Linked DNA regions of Homo sapiens. The protein of the gene in region 3 interacts with the protein of the main gene of each other region in a biochemical or structural test. Each region holds a gene or a part of one and is shown on either strand. Other genes may lie near its edges.

What was found. The genes of interacting proteins can lie anywhere in the genome.
Region 1: the proteins of PPP5C (region 3) and ESR2 form a complex in vitro, tested with the Homo sapiens proteins (one study listed by BioGRID).
Region 2: the proteins of PPP5C (region 3) and CDK20 form a complex in vitro, tested with the Homo sapiens proteins (one study listed by BioGRID).

Annotation. Positions count from the first base shown.
Region 1 is NC_000014.9:64,228,372-64,235,401, reverse strand, and holds part of ESR2 (estrogen receptor beta), read left to right. Parts: intron 1-214; exon of another isoform or gene 215-251; coding exon 252-432; exon of another isoform or gene 433-540; intron 541-2,078; coding exon 2,079-2,265; 3' UTR 2,266-7,030.
Region 2 is NC_000009.12:87,965,941-87,971,563, forward strand, and holds the end of CDK20 (cyclin-dependent kinase 20), read right to left. Parts: intron 5,396-5,623; coding exon 5,207-5,395; intron 4,958-5,206; coding exon 4,836-4,957; intron 4,706-4,835; coding exon of another isoform or gene 4,691-4,705; coding exon 4,628-4,690; intron 3,980-4,627; coding exon 3,856-3,979; coding exon of another isoform or gene 3,835-3,855; exon of another isoform or gene 3,834-3,834; intron 3,410-3,833; coding exon 3,254-3,409; intron 2,928-3,253; exon of another isoform or gene 2,630-2,927; intron 2,234-2,629; coding exon of another isoform or gene 2,155-2,233; intron 1,733-2,154; exon of another isoform or gene 1,720-1,732; coding exon 1,522-1,719; 3' UTR 501-1,521; downstream 1-500. UniProt on the Homo sapiens protein: Required for high-level Shh responses in the developing neural tube.
Region 3 is NC_000019.10:46,371,077-46,378,106, reverse strand, and holds part of PPP5C (serine/threonine-protein phosphatase 5), read right to left. Parts: intron 2,504-7,030; coding exon 2,356-2,503; intron 1,655-2,355; coding exon 1,533-1,654; intron 621-1,532; exon of another isoform or gene 1-620. UniProt on the Homo sapiens protein: Serine/threonine-protein phosphatase that dephosphorylates a myriad of proteins involved in different signaling pathways including the kinases CSNK1E, ASK1/MAP3K5, PRKDC and RAF1, the nuclear receptors NR3C1, PPARG, ESR1 and ESR2, SMAD proteins and TAU/MAPT.

The DNA.
Region 1 (7,030 bases), on a different chromosome or scaffold from region 3:
GCCTGGTGGACACTTCAGGTGGCAATTTAGTCTGTCTGCATTAGGCCAGGCTTCTCTTCTAGCTCTGTGACGGGGCTGGCTCTCAGGGAAGATCCCCTGGGGGAGGTAAGACCATGCTTATAAGCTCCTGCCACACATGCAGCTGTCAAAGCAACCCAGATCACCTCGGAGCAGGCGCACGGAACAGCTGAGCACACGACTTCTGCTCCTTTGCTCAGAGCAATGACTTCTGGCTTTTATTCTTTGTCCAGGTATGTACCCTCTGGTCACAGCGACCCAGGATGCTGACAGCAGCCGGAAGCTGGCTCACTTGCTGAACGCCGTGACCGATGCTTTGGTTTGGGTGATTGCCAAGAGCGGCATCTCCTCCCAGCAGCAATCCATGCGCCTGGCTAACCTCCTGATGCTCCTGTCCCACGTCAGGCATGCGAGGTACGCGCCCTAAGGAGCTGCTCTGCTTGGGCTTGGGATGGGATTATGTGCTCCACGGAGGGTGAAGTGATTTGGGAAAAGTGTCTGCAAGTTAAGGAAAATGAATGCCTGAAAGGGAATGGGGAATTTGTCAGTTCACACACCTGTAAGCAAAGATGGGCACAGAGTGGGCATGGAAGGAATGTCATGTGGTATCTTACAGGCTCTGCATGGCAGCCAGTGGTGGCTCATGGGTTTTTCAATTGCTGGGGTTTATAGCCTGTTTATGGAGTCCTAAAAGGGGCAGTTCCTCCCCTAACACGAACTGCCACCCCTGTTTACACCACCCAGGGCTGAGGCCCTGAGGCCACTTTTTGTGGAGAGGCTAAGACCCGCTCCCCTAGATGGCCCCTCGAGCTGGTGATGCGAAGAAGTGCACAAATGCTTCCCTAAGAGTTGTTCTTTCGGTGGCATCAGGAAATTAAGGATAAGACTTAAGAGAAGTGGTGGACCCAGCAGATTTAGGAAGGCAGGGCTGTAGGTAGGGCATGTTTCTGATCAGGAAACGTAATTGTGTGTGCTGATGAAGAGGGTGTGCAGTGGTGGCTACTGTTGGTACAATGATGCTCAGTGCTTGGTGTCACCCACGATGAGGGTAGCCTTGCCCTGGAGCTGGAGGAGGGGAGGGGAGGGTGGAAGGTAATTAACTGGTCACTGAGGAGGCAAGTCTAGAGGCTGTGGAGAAGGACAATATACACCTCGAGAATCTTAAGTGAGATGAAGACCTCTGCCTTTCCCCTTTAATGATTGCTCAGCACATAGCCATTTGCAGAACAGATCCTGTGTTTGTAGATTCCTTCATTGTGAATTTATCTGCTTGCTAAAATTTATTTGTAACCCCAAAATCAATATTTGTGGTGTTTTTGAGGTCATGAACAGAGTGGCAGAAATTTTGAGTTGCCCTTTATGTACAGTCCCAGCTGAGATGGAACAAGCAGCTGCTCTCATACTGTCAACAAGTGTCCTTTACTTGGTCTACTTAGTGCCATGGTTTTACATTTTTGTGCTTTTGGTGACTTCACTGTTTAAAATGCCCCCCTGGTGTGGTGCTGAAGACCTGTCTAGTGTTCCTCGGTGTGAAAAAGCTGTGATGTGCCTTATGGAGAAAGTATGTGTTAAGCTTTGCTCGGGTGTGAGTTATAGTGCTGCTGGCCATGAGTTCAATGTTAATGAGTCAATGGTATTTATCACATAAGGCATCTTTAGAAAGAAACACACATAAAACAAGGTTTTGTATTGATCAGCTGATGAAGATGTGGCCAGAGGCTTGCAGGAACCTAACCCTGTATTTCCCCTATGAGTGAGGATTCAGTGTTCACAGTGACTTTACGGAACATAATTACCGCAAACAATGAGGATTGATTGTCCTATGTGTCAGGCCATTGTAGGTGTGTGGTGGGACACAGAGGCTGACAAGACATCGTCCTTGCCCTTGAGCCTAAATTATCAGGGGGAGCTGGATGCACGAGCCATGGATAAATGGGCTGGGGGAAGAGTGGGTTTAGGGGTGGGGTAGACTGGCTCTGAGCAAAGAGAGCCGGGGAAGGCTTCGGGGTTCCTGTGGCTGCCTCGGAGGAGGGAATCTCAGCACCTTTTTGTCCCCATAGTAACAAGGGCATGGAACATCTGCTCAACATGAAGTGCAAAAATGTGGTCCCAGTGTATGACCTGCTGCTGGAGATGCTGAATGCCCACGTGCTTCGCGGGTGCAAGTCCTCCATCACGGGGTCCGAGTGCAGCCCGGCAGAGGACAGTAAAAGCAAAGAGGGCTCCCAGAACCCACAGTCTCAGTGACGCCTGGCCCTGAGGTGAACTGGCCCACAGAGGTCACAGGCTGAAGCGTGAACTCCAGTGTGTCAGGAGCCTGGGCTTCATCTTTCTGCTGTGTGGTCCCTCATTTGGTGATGGCAGGCTTGGTCATGTACCATCCTTCCCTCCACCTTCCCAACTCTCAGGAGTCGGTGTGAGGAAGCCATAGTTTCCCTTGTTAGCAGAGGGCACATTTGAATGCAGCGTTTCCACACTCAATGGCCTCATAGGATCTCAGTGTGGTCTTTCTTACTTTCCTTCTTCCTTCCTCCCCTTTGTGAAACATCTTAAAGGTTTTGGAATGAATGGTGGAAATCTGACTTGGAAGGGCTGCGAATCAGAAAGGGGAGAGGAAGTGACACGCTTACAGAAGTGGGCTAACCCTTCTTGTGTGGCACACACTACCCTTCCCTCTGAGAGTTGACCTTTGCTGTTTTCCGGACCACTCCATTGTAAGATTGAAAACCCCTGTGGCAATTGCGTACTTACCTCCCAGGCCTGTGGGGACTGATCATATCATATGATGCTTATTCTGTCAAAGGCCAGAGGGACTGTGGTTAAGCTGGGATGTGAGTCATGTTCTCTCCCTGACCTTGCTGCCAGCTGCACACAGATTTGTCCCTCTCGATTTGTATTCACAGAGCCTGCCAATAATTTGGGGTATGTGTGTATGAGCGTGTGATCATTTTCATGCAGGACTGTGGGAGATACAAATCTCGCTGCTTCTGGAGCTGCTCTTCCTTAAACCTGTTGTCCCATGGGGCCAGCGTGGGTGCTGGAGAAAGGCCGTGTTTGCAGGAATGGGGTTCTCTCCTGTGGGTGTGGGTGACAGCCACAGTGTTTCCCTGGGGCAATGTGGATGCAGTTTCCATCTTGTACAACCTCATAAGTAGCAGCCACAATTGCCCCATCAGTCACCACAAGTAGTCAGGGATACTTTGGGCTGTGGATGTGTGCAGTGTGCTGTTTTATGGATGGATGAGTAGCTATGCACCCCAGTGTGTCAGCTCTGGGGCCACACTGTATAGCCTTGATGAGTACGCCCCTTGAACAAGACCCAGTTTGTGAACTCTCCTTAAAGAGAAATATTTAGGGATAATTATTTATAGCAAGAAAGAATTCTTTTACACTTGAGAGCTCTTTTAAAAATATTTTCTTATTGGAAAATTTATATGGTGGGCAGGGTGAAAAAGAAACAGTAAAAATATTAGTTCTTATTCCAAGTGGAACATAAATAGGACATGAAGAAGGGCACCTCTGAAATGACAACTTTAACTCACCTTTTAAAAGATGTGAAATTTCCAGTTTTGGATACACGGTGAATATGTAAAATGAGTAACAGCATACTATGGAAGCCAGCAATTAAATAATCATGTTTCATTATTGCAGTAACGTTTTAAACAATTACCTTGTGATATGATATTAAATATATTTTCTTTTTGAAAATATGTTCACTTTGGGTAGCACATCCTGTATTTACTAAGTCATTAGGAAGACTGCATTCAGTGTTACCAAGACTGGTTTTTGCTAGTAAGACCTCGAATAATCCATAATTTTGATATTGGTGCAATTTTACTATAAGTTGAGCTTAGCTGTTTCAGAAATGCTTGGACAAGTACCTAGAGAACACACTGATGTCTGTGTTCTGAGGCAGTCTGAAGTTATTCTTAGAGACTCAGTTACAGCTTTAGTAAGATTTAGTACAGGCAGGATAAGCTTGGTTTCATAGGAACCAGGGAACCAGTGTTAGTGTCAGCTTCTTTCCTCCTGGTCAGCCTAGAATCCCCCACTCCCAATAGAGGGGTTTGGAAGCTGGAGAGTAGGAAGTAAGAGGCAAAGAAGGCAGCCTTCAGCAACTCATTATCTGCCAGTGAAATTCTATTAAATGTATTTTTAAAAGAGATTACCAGGTAACAAAAACATAAAAAACCAAAACAAGGCCAGATGTGGTGGCTCACGCCTGTAATCCCAGCACTTTGGGAGGCCGAGGTGGGCGAACCACTTGAGCCCATGAGTTTGACTCCAGGCTGGGCAACATGGAAACCCTGTCCTACAAAAGATACAAAAATTAGCCAGGCGTGGTGGTGCAGGCCTGTAGTTCCAGCTACCTGGGAGGCTGAGGTGGGAGGATCACCTGAGCCTGGGGAGATCAAGGCTGCAGTCCATTGCACTCCAGCCTGGGTGACAGAGGGAGACCCTGTCTCAAAAAAAAAAAAAAAAAAATTGCCACGAAATATATATATATATATATATATAATTTTTTTTTTTTGAGAGTAGATCTTAAGACAGAGATCACTTCTACTCCTGGGAGTGAACTGGCAATGGCAATCCCTTTAGAGCCTCGAGTGGGCAGTATCAGGAGCGCCGCACAGTGAGTTTCCAGCTGAGCTATTCTCACCGAATCTCGCTCTGTTCTCACAGCACCCCTCTGTCAGGCCTGTCTCATAGTGACTGCCCACCAGGACTGACTACAAAAGACTTGACCCTAAAATAGTCTTGAAGGGATTTTTCTCAAAAAATTAAGGCGGGAACACAAGACAAAGCTGTCAGCCTAGTCACAAATCTGAAGACTCAACTGCATTAAAAATAGTGCAAAATCGGCAGGAGCTGTACAGTGCGAGTCTTGGTCTGGAATACTCCCCCTGCTAACTCAGCTGGAAGGGCAACTATCTTAGATTTCAGTAAGGAAGAAAAATCAGTTACCAATACTTGGCAGAGCCATATTATATATCCATATATATTTATGTATATAAGTGGAATTGAAGCAATTCTAGAATTTTCTAGCATGTGAAAGCAGGGTTTAGTTCTTATTTACGTCTGCTAAGGGACTTTTCAAATTCAAAGTGAACCTTCTGTTTATAGGCCTATTTTGAAACAAAGTATCCTCACTTAATAAGATTTGACACCTTTTTTTTTTTTTTTTTGAGACAGGGTCTGACTCCTGTTGCTCAGGCTAGAGTGCAGTGGCGCCATCATGGCTCACTGCAGCCTCGACCTCCTGGGCTCAAGCGATCCTCCCACCACAGTGCCCCATCCCACCCCATTCCCGCCCTCGCCGAGTAGCTGGGGTGCACACCACCACTCCTGGCTAATTCTTTTAATATTTGTAGAGATGGGGTTTTACTATGCTCCCCAGGCTGGTCCTGAACTCCTGGGCTCCAGCGATCTGCCTGCCAAGGCCTCCCAAAGTGCTGAGATTACAGGCATGAGCCACTGTGCCCAGCCCCGCCACATTTTTTTTTAAGTTGCTGAAAATCTTTTAAAAAGATAAAAACACATTATTTAGTATCTAAAGATAATATCTGTGCCAGACACAGTTCTCAGTGCCTCAGACATTCACATTTAATCCTTATTATAATAACTGCTATTTCCTTATTTTCTGGTTGTGGAACTAGACACGGTCTAAGCAAACTTGCTGAAGGTCACGTGGGGAGTAGGTGATTGAGCTGAACACAGGCAGTCCAAGTCCAGTGCTGACAGTGACCATGCACTTCAAACAGTTTAAAAATTTAAAGAAAAATATTTTAAAACTGCAGAATCTATCAGGTGCAACCTGACATGCACGGCTGCTGTGATTTAAATGGGGCCCCCTTGTGATACCCCCTTACCTCCCACCACAATGTCCAGAACACCCCTACAGACACAGTAAGTTTGTAAACCTCTCACATCAAAGTTCAACTCCACCTTTCATATCTGTGTAAATTAAAGCCCACGGGGGCAAATTCACCTATTCAAGGTCATAAAACTACTCATGGCAAAGCTTGGACTGGCACGCAAGTCTTCTGCTTGCCTAGCGGGCCAGTATTGCTCCTGCCCCAGGACTTGCTTCTGTGAGAATCTGCTTTGTGAGCTGAGTCGCAGCAGAATGGAGGGGCGGTGAAGTTAGGGTTGTCTTCTGCTGTACCTTTAGATCCCATCTCCTCAGCTTAGATGGGTCTGCATGAGCCTTTACACAACAGCAGCAATGACAGATGGAAAAATAAGATGCATAATCTGTTATTCCCATTGTCCCATCTCAGGTTCATGAGCTCTAGTGGGTACTGTGATCACCTCCTGTCTGTGACTGCTTTCCCCAAACACGTGGAATATGTTCCTTGGAAGTGTACTCATGTAAAATTCACATCTTTTAGGCACTGCTGCTTCCCTGTGGAGTGTGATATACTACAGTGTGAAAACACGTGCCACTTATTCTTTATAGCTCTCAAACTTGCTGGAATTTTGGCTCCAGTGGCAGCTCTTAAGATGTGCATTGTCTGTGATGTATGATCGTAGTGCCATTTTTGTTGCTTTGGAGTCAGGGAGGTTTTTTGTTTGTTTGTTTGTTTGTTTTTTAATTCCGAGGATCCTATTCACTTGTAGGGCCAGCCACTGGTAAACTGGTGGTGGGTTTCCTCTATGGGAAGCACATAAGGAGTGGTGATACCAGCCGCGAACAGTTCCTGTTAACTGTACAATGGATGTTTTTGCATTTGTTTCCTCTGTTGGGTGTCTAAATGCCTTAACTGTTGGTCCTATACCTTTTGTCATTCAATGTGTACTTCAGAGCCTGTTGGTTGGCTATAATTTGCCATTTTCTCAGACGAATGCTTTGTATCATTACACTAATTTGTTGACTTCATTTGCAGGCTTTACATTTGGGCCTTGTAGAAATGAATGTTTGCTGCTCTGTGAAAGCAGATTTTGAGACCTGCTTTCCCTTCCTCCAGGGAGTGTTTTCCTTACTGTGTCCCTTTAATGTCTATGGCACTGT
Region 2 (5,623 bases), on a different chromosome or scaffold from region 3:
ACATCAGACTTTCCTGAAAGCCAAGAACGAGGGTTGAGTATGTTTTCTCTCTCCACTAAGTGCTTGAAGGCCAGCATCTGTAGCAGTGTTAGTCACCCTGAGTGCTCACAGAAGAGTTTATCCACATGAAGCATAAAATAAACATTTTAAAAATAAAGGGAGCCTGGGGCTGGGCATGGTGGCTCACGCCTACAATCCCAGCACTTTGAGAGGCCCGGGCAGGCAGATCACGAGGTCAGGAGATCAAGACCATCCTGGCTAACATGGTGAAACCCTGTCTTGAGTAAAAATACAAAAATTAGCCAGGTGTGGTGGCACGCGCCTGTAGTCCCAGCTACTCGGGAAGCTGAGGCAGGAGAATCACTTGAACCCAGGAGGCGGAGGTTGCAGTAAGCCGAGATTGTGCCACTGCACTCCAGCCTGGGCAACAGAGCAAGACTCCATCAAAAAATAAATAAAATAAAAATAAAGGATGGCTAAGAATAAGTTTCTCTAGTCTGTTTTTATCCTTGAACCACAATCATACTCTTTATTATTATACAAACTTTTAAATATTGGTATCTGATACCGTAAGTCCTTCCATCATTTCCTCTTCTGCATCTGGTTCCACTTCCTTCCATGTATCTTTTATAATCACCTTATCAAATTATAATAAGGAAAAAGCACTAGCTGGGATTATATTGGGATTTATTAAATTTATAAATTAATTCCAGGAACGCTTGTTTCCTTAAATACACAGCTGCTTCTGGCTCACGCTCATCCTGAGGGAGTAGATGTTGGTAAACCAGCCTCATGTGCAGAGGGTCTCCTGCTGGATCCCCAACTGGAGCCATCCCTGGGCCTAGACTTCTGTCTCCCTCACTTCTAAATGAGTGCTCAGTGATGTGAAGTACACAGGAGTCCCTCAGGGCAAAAGTGGCTATGCCTGGTGCTACCCTCCCCATGACCCCAAAAACGAGAGCCATGAGACAATGCCACCTTAGCCATTTCCCTTGAGAGAAATGAAGGAGGAACAGACATAAGGCAGAGCCACCTGAGGTTTTTAGAATCTATATCTCACATACTGAACTAGTGTTTAATGGCTCTGAGAATAAAACCAAACCAAATCTTCCTTCCACTTGAGTTTCCAACATAAGGACACCTTACTCTCTGCACTTCTCCTTGACCAGGAGGCAGCACTCGGGGAAGCAGCACCAAGGCAGGCATCGTCATTCTGCATATGCAGGCCTTGACTGGCAGCAGAGCTCACTGTCCTGATGGGTACGTCAGTAGCACACAGAAGGTAAGGCTCACCGAGCACAGGCCATGAATCTCCTCTGCTCGACTGGATGTTCTCATACTCTTGGCTGGGAACATGACCTCTGCCTCGAGACCAACCCTCGCAAGGGCTAAGGGGCAGGGTGTGGTGTGGGCCCACTGTGGCCATGGGGAGGCCTTGGAGGGTGAAGCCAGGCAGGTGGCAGAGGAACAGGTGGACTGAGTGGTCCTGAGGAGCAGGCAGACGGGACCAGGGCCAACTTCTCACCCCTCCAGGATGAAGGGCCGAATCAGCTCTGGGTTCAACAGCGACTCCTCAAGAGGCCGGTCCACGTGGAAGTCATGGATGTGGGGGGGCCCTGGATGGGCCTTGGGGGCAGGTCCCCCTAGACGCTGAGGAATCGGCAGCTCAGATGGATGGGCAGGCAGGGGAGCTGTGAAGAAGTACTGATGGAGGAGAGCCTGAGGGTGGCAAGTAAGGAACAGCAGAAGGAAACTAGTCACCTCCCTGTCCCCAGCCTCAAGCAGATGTTCCTTCATCTATGCATTCAGCTGACTCAGTGTGTCTGGGTGTTTTCTGAGTGTCTACTATGTCTGAAGCACTATTCCAGAAGCTGGGAACATAGCCGTTAATAAAACAGACAAAAGCTCTGTTTTTCTGACATAAGTGAGGGTGGGGGGTAATAAACAAGATGAAGTAAAATACACAGTATGTCAGATAATGATTAGTGCAGTGGAAGAGAGAAAGCAAGACAGAGGAATGAGGAATCCTGGAGAGAGGTTGCAGATCTGAAGAGTCATGAGGGAAGGCCATCTGAGAAGTGACATTTAAGCCAAGACTTGAGACATAAGCAAGTGGGACATGAGGCTCCAGGCCAGGGACAAAAGTGTACTGACCCCTGGGGCTGGAGAGGAGTGAGCACAGGGCACAACAGCAGGCAGCGTCATGAGGTGATGGCACCCAAGCATACGACATCTGTGGGTCACAAAAAGGACCCTGGCTTTTCCTCTGAGATGGAGCCACAGGAGGGCCCTGGCAGAGAAGGAATGTGTCCTGTTCTACTTGGATAAAGTTACTCTGTCTGCCAGGTGGAGAAGAGATTAAATGGGATGAGGGGAGACCCAGATTCTGGGAGGCAACCCAAGAGATAAGGGTCACACGGCTTGGGTACACTGTGGACACAGAGCCCACAGGAGCTGCTGACAGTGGAGACCAAGAGGGCGTATGTAAACACACGCGGCTGGTGCTGAGTGCAGGGAGGGGACAGGGACCCCTGAGAGACACCCTGACACCTGTCAGCCCATGCTCCTGTGGTCATCGTCCTCCCAGGCCTACCAGCCATAACCAGCCTTCCTGGGTCCTCTCTTCCAGGCCTCTGCCCACCATTTCTCTCTTCAGCGAACACCTCCTCAAACATCTCATGCTTAAACCTGCCCTCCACCAGGAAGCTTTGCTTGACCCCAAAGTCGGCCTTGCCTCTCTCCTGGGGCTCCCACAGCTGGAGAACATGACCTCTTGTGACCTTTTGGACCTGGAGCTACCTCACCACCAGGAGTGCCCCGCGGAGGTAGGACTGATTGTTTACCATCTGTGCAGGGCCCAGGACAATCCCTGCATGTGCCAGATGTGCAGAAAATACTTGCTAATGGAATAAAGGAATGAGTCCCCAGTGACTCTCTTACTGTATCTGCCACAGGGTCAGGGGCAGCCCAGAAACCTGCACTCCCGGACACGCGCTCTCCTGAGAGTTGGGCATGCCCCTCGTATGGGCCACCCTCAGGGGAAGTCTGGGGATGTCCAGTGGGGTCTACTCATGAGAGGCACACCTGCTCCAAGGCCCCTGTCCCCTGGGTTCCAGATGTCTGGTGCTGGTCCATGCCAATCACAGGTTCTGAGGGTCGCTGATGTGATGGGGTCACATGGCTACCAAGTACAGAGTACCAGGGTGATGGGGAGGGGAGCTGAAGGAGCAGAGACTACAGCCTCTCCCCCTACCTTGGAAGCTGCGATGCGCTGGTGAGGAGGGTAGAGAAGGAATTGACCCAGCAGATCCAATGCCTGGGGAGAGACGTCAGGCAGCACCTCCTCCAGGGGCATGGGCACCTGCTCCTTAAAGGAGATCTTGTTGTAGTCCGGCAGCTCAGTGAGCTCCTGGGCCAGGGAGAAGGAACAGGGTACAATGAGAGTAGTTCCCGACCCTTGCCATGCTCTCTGCTGTCAACTCTCAGCCCCTAACACACACTCACATGGGGGGTGCTCTCCCATCCATGTGTCTCCCTGACCCATCATTCATTCACTCACCCACCCCTGTATTCCTTCATCCATCCCCTTGCCCTCTCAGATGACGACTCTGTGCACAGCTTGCTGAGACACTGCACATGTGTGTACTGGGGTGAAAAGGGACAAAGGACAGGATCTACCCCAACCCAAATGACAGCAGGAAGGAGGAAGCCCTGAGTTGGGCCAGGACAGTGGTCCCTGTCCATCAAGGGGGGTTGGGGCCAGGAGAGAGAAGGTTCAGGGGAGGGAGTGGTTACTTGCTGTTGGGAGTGGAGTAAACCTGCCCCACACCCACCTCACCAAGGGCCCCTACAAACCGGCCAGACTTGAGGGTTTGGGGTGCCCAAGATGCGAAGCACATAGCAAAGCTGTTCAATATCGTTCTTGCCCGGGAAAAGGGGGGACCCATTCAACAGCTCCCCCATGATGCAGCCCACAGACCTGTGGACACAGAGCCCCAAGCAGGTCAGAGATCTCCCACCATGGACCACAGACCCACCCACAGAGCAGCTCTAACACTGCACTCCAGGGCAAGGCCCCACAAGCCAGCCCTGGAGCCTCACGTCCAGAGGCCCAGTCCCTGAACCCTCAAAGCCCTCAACCCTAGAACCCAGAGCAAAGCCCCAGCTGTTCCAAGACTTCTCGGAGACTCCTGCTCTAGGACACTTCTGGGGCAGACCTGCAAACCTGCCCCAAATCTCAGACCCATGGGCACTGCCAACTATCTTCTTGCTGCAAAACAAGCTCAGAGCTTTCATGTCCAAGGACACAGGCCTCTGACCAGCTCAGAGATGCCATATCCTAGGATCTAACTCCAGCACATATCGGCTCAGACCACCTCCCCATCTAGCCCAGAAAGCTTCCCACCTGGGACCACCATTCTCATCCCACCTGGCCCCTACCCAGCTCGAAAACATCATAGTGAGGAACCCCAACCCCAAAGTGCTCAGAATACCCCAACCAGGGAAGACACCCTTAAGGAAGCCTAAACTCCCACCAGGGAAAAGACCACCAAACAGCTCAGAGACCTCAGAGCCTAGCAGAAATCCATGAGCCATGTTACCCTTTGACCACCCACAGGGGTCTCACCACAGATCGACGCCCTGGTCATACTGGCGGGCACCATACAGGAGCTCGGGGGCTCGGTACCACCTGCGAGGAAGAGGGCTGGCAGGCACTGGGCTGAGAAAAGGATGCCTGGGGAGGTGACCCCAGCCCCACAAGCAATGTCTGGAGAAAAGGCCCAGAAGCATCTCTTCCCCATGGAGAAGACTGGAAGGGATCTGGCCCTCCCTACCTGGTGGCCACCTGGTGTGTGTAGAGGCGGCTGCCGTCTGGGGAAAAGACTCGAGCCAGGCCAAAGTCCGCTATCTTGAGCTGGCCTGAGGCGCTGATGAGCAGGTTGGCAGGTTTCAGGTCCTGGGAGTACCAAAAGAAGCATCAGTCCCTCCAAATCCCCCATAGGACCTTGGGACAAGCGGGCTTGGCAGTCTAACCACTCAGGTCAGCCCCGGTCCCCACCTCCTCCAGGGCCATGCCCTGGCCACTTACCTGGAGGCCTTGACCAGCTCTGTCCCAACTTCTTATCACACCTTTTACAAGGGCTAGCCCCATCCCCAAGCCAAGTCAGCTCCCCAGACCCCATGCCCGGCCTATGCTGAGACTGACCCGATGTACAATGTTGTTGGCATGGCAGAAGGCGACACCCTTGAGCAGCATCTGCAGGTAGCTCTTGACCTGTGCCTGGGCTAGTGGCCTCTGGGCATGGCGCACCACCTCGGCCAGATCCGACAGCATGAACTCAAAGGCCAGCACAAAGCCTCCACCGTGTGGGAACACAGCCTTCAGTTGTACCACCTGTGGGCAGGACATCTTGTTAGCCCCCAGACTCAAGTCACCAGACCCTCTCTGTGACCCTGAGACCCCAGCCCATGCCCTGACAGAGGACCCTGTATCCAAAAAGACAGTAAGCAAAGAAGGTGACGTGGACCTGAGCTAAGAATCAGAGAGCTCGATGCTCATGATTTGCTCTGCTCTCCTGAGATAAGGTGTGCCCCCACTCTAATTCTCCATGAACACTAAAAG
Region 3 (7,030 bases):
AATTAACAGCATTAATGTCCATCTTCAGAAGCCAGAAGAAAGCAAATTAAACCTCAAGCATGCATAGAGAATAATGAATGAAAAATCAATGAAACAAAAGACAATCAATAGAGAAATTCAACATGAACAATGAAAACATGTTCACAAAAAGACTTGTCCAAGAAGTTCATAGCAGCTTATACTTATAAAAGCTACAAAGTAGAAATAACCCAAATGTCTCTCAAAAGAAGACTGCATAAACAAGTCATGGGCTGTTCAGACAATGGAGGACTTGAGCTACCGATATACACAACATCCATGTATGAATCCCACACACATTGTGCCACATGAAAGAAGAGACACTAAACGCTGTAAGCCCATATGACATTGAAATGAAATTCAAAACCAGGCAGAATTAATTTACAGTGGTGAAAAATCAGATCAGTGGTTGCCCCTGGGATGGGAGTGAGGGCTGACTAGAAAGGGGTCAAAGGGAGCTTTCTGGTTGATGGAAATGTTCTGTAACTTGTTTGGGCAGTGGGCACATAAAACTCTAAAAACTCATCTAACAGGACACTTCAGATTTGTGTATTTTATTGTGCATTAATTATACTTCAATTAAAAACAACCAGGAATGTGGACATTCCTCCTCCTGTCTCACCTTTAACAACATGATCAACAGCTAACCCATACAGAGCACTAACCATGTGCTAGGCACTATTCGAAGCACTGATGTGGATTACACGCAGTTACTCCTTACAACAGCCCTTGGTGGAGACAGTATGATTATCTCCACTGCACAGAGGAGGAAATCAAGGCACAGAGAGGTGAAGCCATCTGCCCACAGGCACACAGCTAGTATGTGGGAAGGTAGAGATTTGAACCCAGGCCACTTGGCTCTCTAGGACCTATCAAATGGCGGCTTCCCATATTGCCTGCACACTCCTGTAAGAGTCACCTGCCTGTCAACCTGACTCACAAGAAGTCCCGCATCCTCATAACCAACCCAGGAGGTGGTGGATCTCAGCAGTTCCCCAAAACTATGGTAAGGTCCCTGTAGCCCTGAGAGGTCAGGGCAGGGGGCCTTGTCCAGATGGGATACCAGAGCCTGAGTCTCACTCAACCAGTTAACACCCTGTGGCCAGCTGCCCTCCTAGGTCGGGGAGGGGGTGGTCTCAGGACTAGGAGCAACCAGCAGGTCCCAAACAACCTGCAACAACCAGCAGCCACAGACGCCCAAGAGCCTGGGATGAGAACTCAAAGCAACAGACTCTACTGCTTCCTCACCTTTCACCCTGGGCCAGTCACCTGACCTCTCTGGCCCTTTGTCCCTGCATCTGTCAAATGGCACTGCCTGCCACCTCCCCAAACTGCTGTGGGACGAGATGAGATCATGTGGTAAGCCCTCGGCACAGTGTCCGGCACACGACTCCTGTTTGGTGTTGGCTGTCATGGCCGCCCTTCTCCTGTCGTTTTGCTCAGTGCCCGCGGCTGGCAGTGCTGTGATGCCATCCCAGGGTTCCCGGGTGCCCAGTACCTGACAGATGCATTACCTGGTAGGCACATTTCCGGTGCAGTTTCTTCTGGTCCTTGTACCACTGCATGAGCTCCTTCATGAAACTGATTGTCACTTTGCCGTCTTCAAGCTTGGGTCCGCTGTACTCATCCTCAATGGCTAGGGTGTGAACAACGGGACACGAGAGTCAGTGACCACAGCCACTATGAGGGAGAAGGGGGTCTCGCTCCCAGGGATGGGGAAAACTTGGGTGTGGACACACAGGTCGAGAGCGGGACAGAGTGAGTGAAGAGTCCCCTCCTGGGTCAGGTCTGGCCCAGAGGCCTCTTCCTGACCTCCCTGTCTTCCTTCACCCACCCCCCTTTACTCTATTCAGTTTTATGGCACTTAGCACTATTCATTTCATGACTTATTCATCATCTTATCTCCCTCCTAGAATATCGGCTCCATGTGGACAGGAAGGGTTTTGTTCATAGCTGTACCCCTAGTGCCTAGGACAGTGCCGGGCACATAGGAGATGCTCAATAATCATCTGTGGGATGATCCACAACAATCCCTTGGATCTTCTCAGCACCTAGAGGTGAATCAGACACAGCCTGTGGGGACTGTGCTACTACCCGGAGGAAGGGCCCGTGAAATGGCAGGGGGACCATGGCTCTCCAATCTCGCTCACTGGGAAGCGTGAGGCCCAGCTTTGGGCTGTGGATGGAGCGCCCTGGAACACAGGCAGAGGAGCGACAGACACCAGCCTGGGGACAGAACAAGGGGCCACCCCTGAGCCCAACCCCACCCCCAGGGAATGGAGAAGGCCCGTGTGGAATGTTCTGGGCTGGAGCGTGGAGCATCCAGGCCTGACTCACTCATGCTCTCGATGTCCAGCGAGTCCACCACGGAGCGCTTGTGCTCGTCGCCCGCGATGGCCCGCTCAAAGGCCTTCTGCTTCACGATCTTGTTGCACTCCTGGTATTTCATTTTGGCATCCTTGTCATGGGGCTTCACCTTGACCACCTGGGTGGGAGGGAAGGGGCGTGCACACTGAGGCTGAGGTGGGGGCACAGCGGTTGCCCCCAGGCTGCCCAGCCCTGGGTTCCATGAAAGTGGAAGTCAGACCGCCTGGGCGCCAGGTGCTGATGGTGCAACCCTAGACGTATTTAACTGCCGAGCCTTGGTTTCTGCACCCCAAAACTGGGCACAGCAAAGCTGCCCGCATGGGTGCACTTCATCAATCTTAGCTATGAGCGCGCTAAAATCAAACAACTGCCTGTCTGAGGACTGCGGGCTCAGCTTCAGGTGCCCTGTGAGAATCCCTGTGGGGTGAGCAGCATCCCAAGCACAGGTCCTGATGCTACTATCGTGACTACCAAGGTGGCGGAGCATGAGAGGAAGGGCCCGGCTGGGTCTACGGTCACAGAACAGCCCAGACTCACACAAAGGGCCAATGACTTGCTGGACGACATGGACTCCCCAAGCCCAGGTTACCTAATCTCTAACAGGGAGGTGACACAGGGCTCCCCTGCCAGGGCTGTGGGAAGGAATAAGTAACACAGGGGGCCCGGCATGCAGCAGGGGCAGGTGGGCAGCAGCACCGAGTGCTGTTACTTCCCTCCCTCACACTCTGGGGAGGCCCAGGACAAAAGATTTCCCTGTTTTGTCCACTGAAGAGAGGAACTGAGGGTCACAGATCCCTGAGACCGGGTTCAAATCCCAGCTCTGCAAGTCATGAGCTGGGTGACCTCAGGCAGGTGAGTCTGCCTCTCTGTGGCTCAGTTTCTCTCTGAGGTGGGACTGAGAACCATATATATCTCCCTCAAGAGGGCCACTGGGAGAGCTGCATGGGTGAATGCTTGTGAACCCTGCACAGTGGTGCCAGGTGAAAGGAAACTCCACGTGGGCGCCCACTGCTCTTCACGGTCCCCCTTCTGGGGCTGCTGCGCTGATGACCAGATCATACACAATAGGCATGGGGCGTTCAGCTTTGGGACATAGCAAGTTCCCAGTGAAAGGAGCCCTATCCCCGCAACCTTATTTACCCCGATTCCTGCAAACTCTGATCTTCTAACCTGAAAAGCAGACTGGATTTGGGGGCTGGATTCAGATCCTGGCTCTGCTACTTACTTGCCATGTGACTTTGGGCAAGTGACTTCACCTGTTTAGTCACGTAGACCCCCGTCTGACCTGCCCACCATCCTTAGCCTCCCCAGGAGCAGACCCCCGTATCTCCTGTGCCAGAGGACAGACTGGGAGGTCCCAGGGCCGGCCCTCAAGGAGCAGGGGTGGCCTCTGGTGGAAAGCCTGGCAGCGTGACTCAGAAACCTCCACAGAGACACCCACTGACCCCTGCAGGTTGGTGTGACAGAAGCAGGGGGTGAGGCTCATCCATGCTGGAAACAGGTGTGTGCGCCAAGCGGGGTGAGAAGAGCCCAGGCCCAGCAGGCCACGGCCTCCTCCCTGTCTGGGCAGGCCTAGGGCACCCTGCCAGGCAGCTCCACCTGGGCTGTGGGTGGGTGTAAGGCAGGGGAGGAAGACAGTGCCAGGCAGCCCCTGGCATCCTTCCCAATGAGGAGTGGTTATGTGCCCACACCCGGCTGGCATCCAAACCAGCATGTGGCCTGGCCCATGCGGCTCCTCCCACCCCTCTATACCTCCCAGCCAGACCACTCATGTCCCCGGCATGCTGGCTCCAGGCCTTTATGCAGGCTGCCTCTGCCCAGAGCACCTCATTTGCACCTCCAGCTCCTCCTCCAGGTCTCAGCCCCACTGATCCCTCCTCTAGGAAGCCCCAGAGGCTGGGTCAGGCACCCCCTCTGGGCTCCCAAAGGCCCCTGGGCTCCCTTGTTCCAGCCGTGAGCCCTGCTGGTTCGGAACCGGTCTGTCCACCCCGCTGGAAGGTGGCCCTGTGAGGGCAGGGCTGAGGCTCAGCCATAGCTGTGCGTGCAGCAGTCAATGAATTTCCCTTCCCCCCTTTCTCCAAAGAAATGAATGAGTGACTGAGCATTTCCTCCCCGCCAGTCTCCTGTTCTCCAGGGGTGGGCGGGCTGGGAAGGCAGATGAAGGCAAACAATGACAGCGCAGGGAGGAGAAAGGGAGTGGGAATACCAACAGTGGCAGCGGCAACAATAATAATACACAGCTCACTTCTAGAGCACTTACTATGTGCCTAATATTGTGTAAGCAATTCACTTGCTCATTTATCCTCCATGCACCTCTACATGGCAGTGTTTTCACAATCCTCATCTGACAGACAAGAAAACCAAGGCCCGGGGAGGTGAAGTCACCCACCCAGGAAGCCAGGATTCCCTTCTCTCCCAGGCGAAACTGCGCCAAAGCCCAGGCTCCTGATTTCCGCTATGCACGCTGGGATGGGCTCCCCTTCCACCACCTCCCCTCCCTGCCTGGGCCTCTCGTCCCTGGGGCACACTGCATGCCCTCCAGGGAGGCAGCGTGGGGCAGTGGTTATGAGCCTGGGCTCTGGGACTAGGCCTCCTGGGTCTGAATCCAGGCCTGCCAGGACAGGCGGCCTCACATCTCAAGCCTCCCTCAGTTTCTAGAAAGTAGGGGTGGTGCCAGCACCCCCTGGAGGATTGTCGTGAGAACTTAATGCCAGGCAGCAGCAGGCAAGTGCTCATCCCAAGGCCTGCTGCTACTGTAGCTGCTGCGACACGCAAGGTCTAGCTGGGACAGTGAAGATGCCCTGCTGGGCTCCTGCTCCTGAGGAAGGTCATTCAGTCCAGACCAGAAGGGACTCAGCTCCTGAAGGCCCACCGGGTCAGAACTTCACACTGAACTTTTTTTTTAAAGTGGCAGTTGGATTGTATCAAGGTCAGTATTCTGACTGTGATATTTATGTAGTTATGCCAGATATACCTTTAGGGAAAACTGGGATTTCTGCATTACTTCTTACAACTGCAGGTGAATCCACAGTGCTAAGTAAACAAGTTGTTTCTAAAAGCATTATCTTCGTCAGCGAGTACTCATGGGTAATGATGTCTGGAGCTGGTGAAATGGTAACACAGGTTCACAATCCCCGAAGAAGCCCTGGGGGCTGCGTGTATTTGGGGATTGGGAATTTTTTGGATTTTAGTAAGGTGATTTGGTAGATGGCCGGGTGTGGTGGCTCACACCTATAATCCCACCACTGTGGGAGGCTGAGGTGGGAGGATCACTTGAGCTCAGGAGTTCAAGACCAGCCTGGACAACATAGTGAGTCCCTATCTCTAGAAAAAAATAACAACAACAACAAAAAGCTAGCCAGGTATGGTGGTGCATGCCTGTAGTCCCAGCTACTTTGGGGGGCTGAGGTGGGAGGATTGCTTGAGCCCAGGTAAGGCTGCAGTGAGTCATGATTGTGCCATCACACTCCAGCCTGGGTAACACAGTGAGATTCTGTCTCAAAAAAAAACCAAAACAAAACAATACAAAAAAACCCACATGATTTTGTGTACATGCTCTATCATAGGACACCCCCAGCAGGTCCAAGGCAGTACCTAGTAATCACAAGCACATACACGGCCATTTCTGCAGCAAAACCTCCAGACATGCCACTGGAGAGTAATCAAGACCATCAGCAGCTTCTTAGTAGTTCAGGTCAGGTTTTGCCACTGAACGAGCTGCCCAAACTTACCAGAACAACTGTTCTTCAGAACTGCTTGGGTTTTAAAACTAAGGGTGAGGGATTATAGAGCAGCATCAAGATCCCACATGGAGTGGACCCACAGTACAAGGTGTAACAGGGCATTCTGAATATCTCCAACATGCAGACAATGAGCAGCAGCCCAGAAGGGAGCCGTGCCTGCCTGAGGCATGCAGGCAGCTGGGGGAAGTCAGGTTTCCAGGGCAGGAAATGCCGCTGCTAGTGACAGCCTGAAGCCTGACATAAGGGTTTTTACCCTAGTGGGTTAGTTTCTGGTGAATGAGTTTGGCAAGTCATACCCAGCATTCTCTGTATAATAAGTCAGAGAGACCACCAAGGTGCACTGCCTGAGCTAAGGGTGAGTGCTGTGCCGAGAAACTCGGACCCGCTGCGCCTGCCCTGCTTATGGCCTGACTCTGGGACAAAGCTGCCACCTCCTGGCTGTGCAACCTCAGTGGAGTGAGCTACCCTCTGGGCCTTGGTTTCCTCACCTATAAACCAGGGACAAAGAGAGTCTCCACTGCGCAGGGTAGCCGTGAAGATGAAATGAGTTATATTACTGCATGAAGGTCACACCCTGGGCCCTGGCGAGCGCTGGATGAAATAGTGGTTGTGACTATTCCTGTTACTTTCACAGATCCATGCTGTAGGTGTACAGGCACTAGTATCCGCTTGCAAGGCAACACGCATTTCTAACTGACTGTGCTGGACTCTGATGTAAGGAACCCAAAGCCACAGAACAAAAATCAGGAGATCCCAGGAAGGGCCAGGGAGCACAGAGGGAGTCCCCCAGATCCGGCCTAGGTTTGCACCCAAGTTCCAAGCATAGACAGGAAAGAACATAGGTGGTGTCTTCCGGAAAAGGACCCCGTGAGGGACATCCATCATGAGAGTCAGGGTTCTCC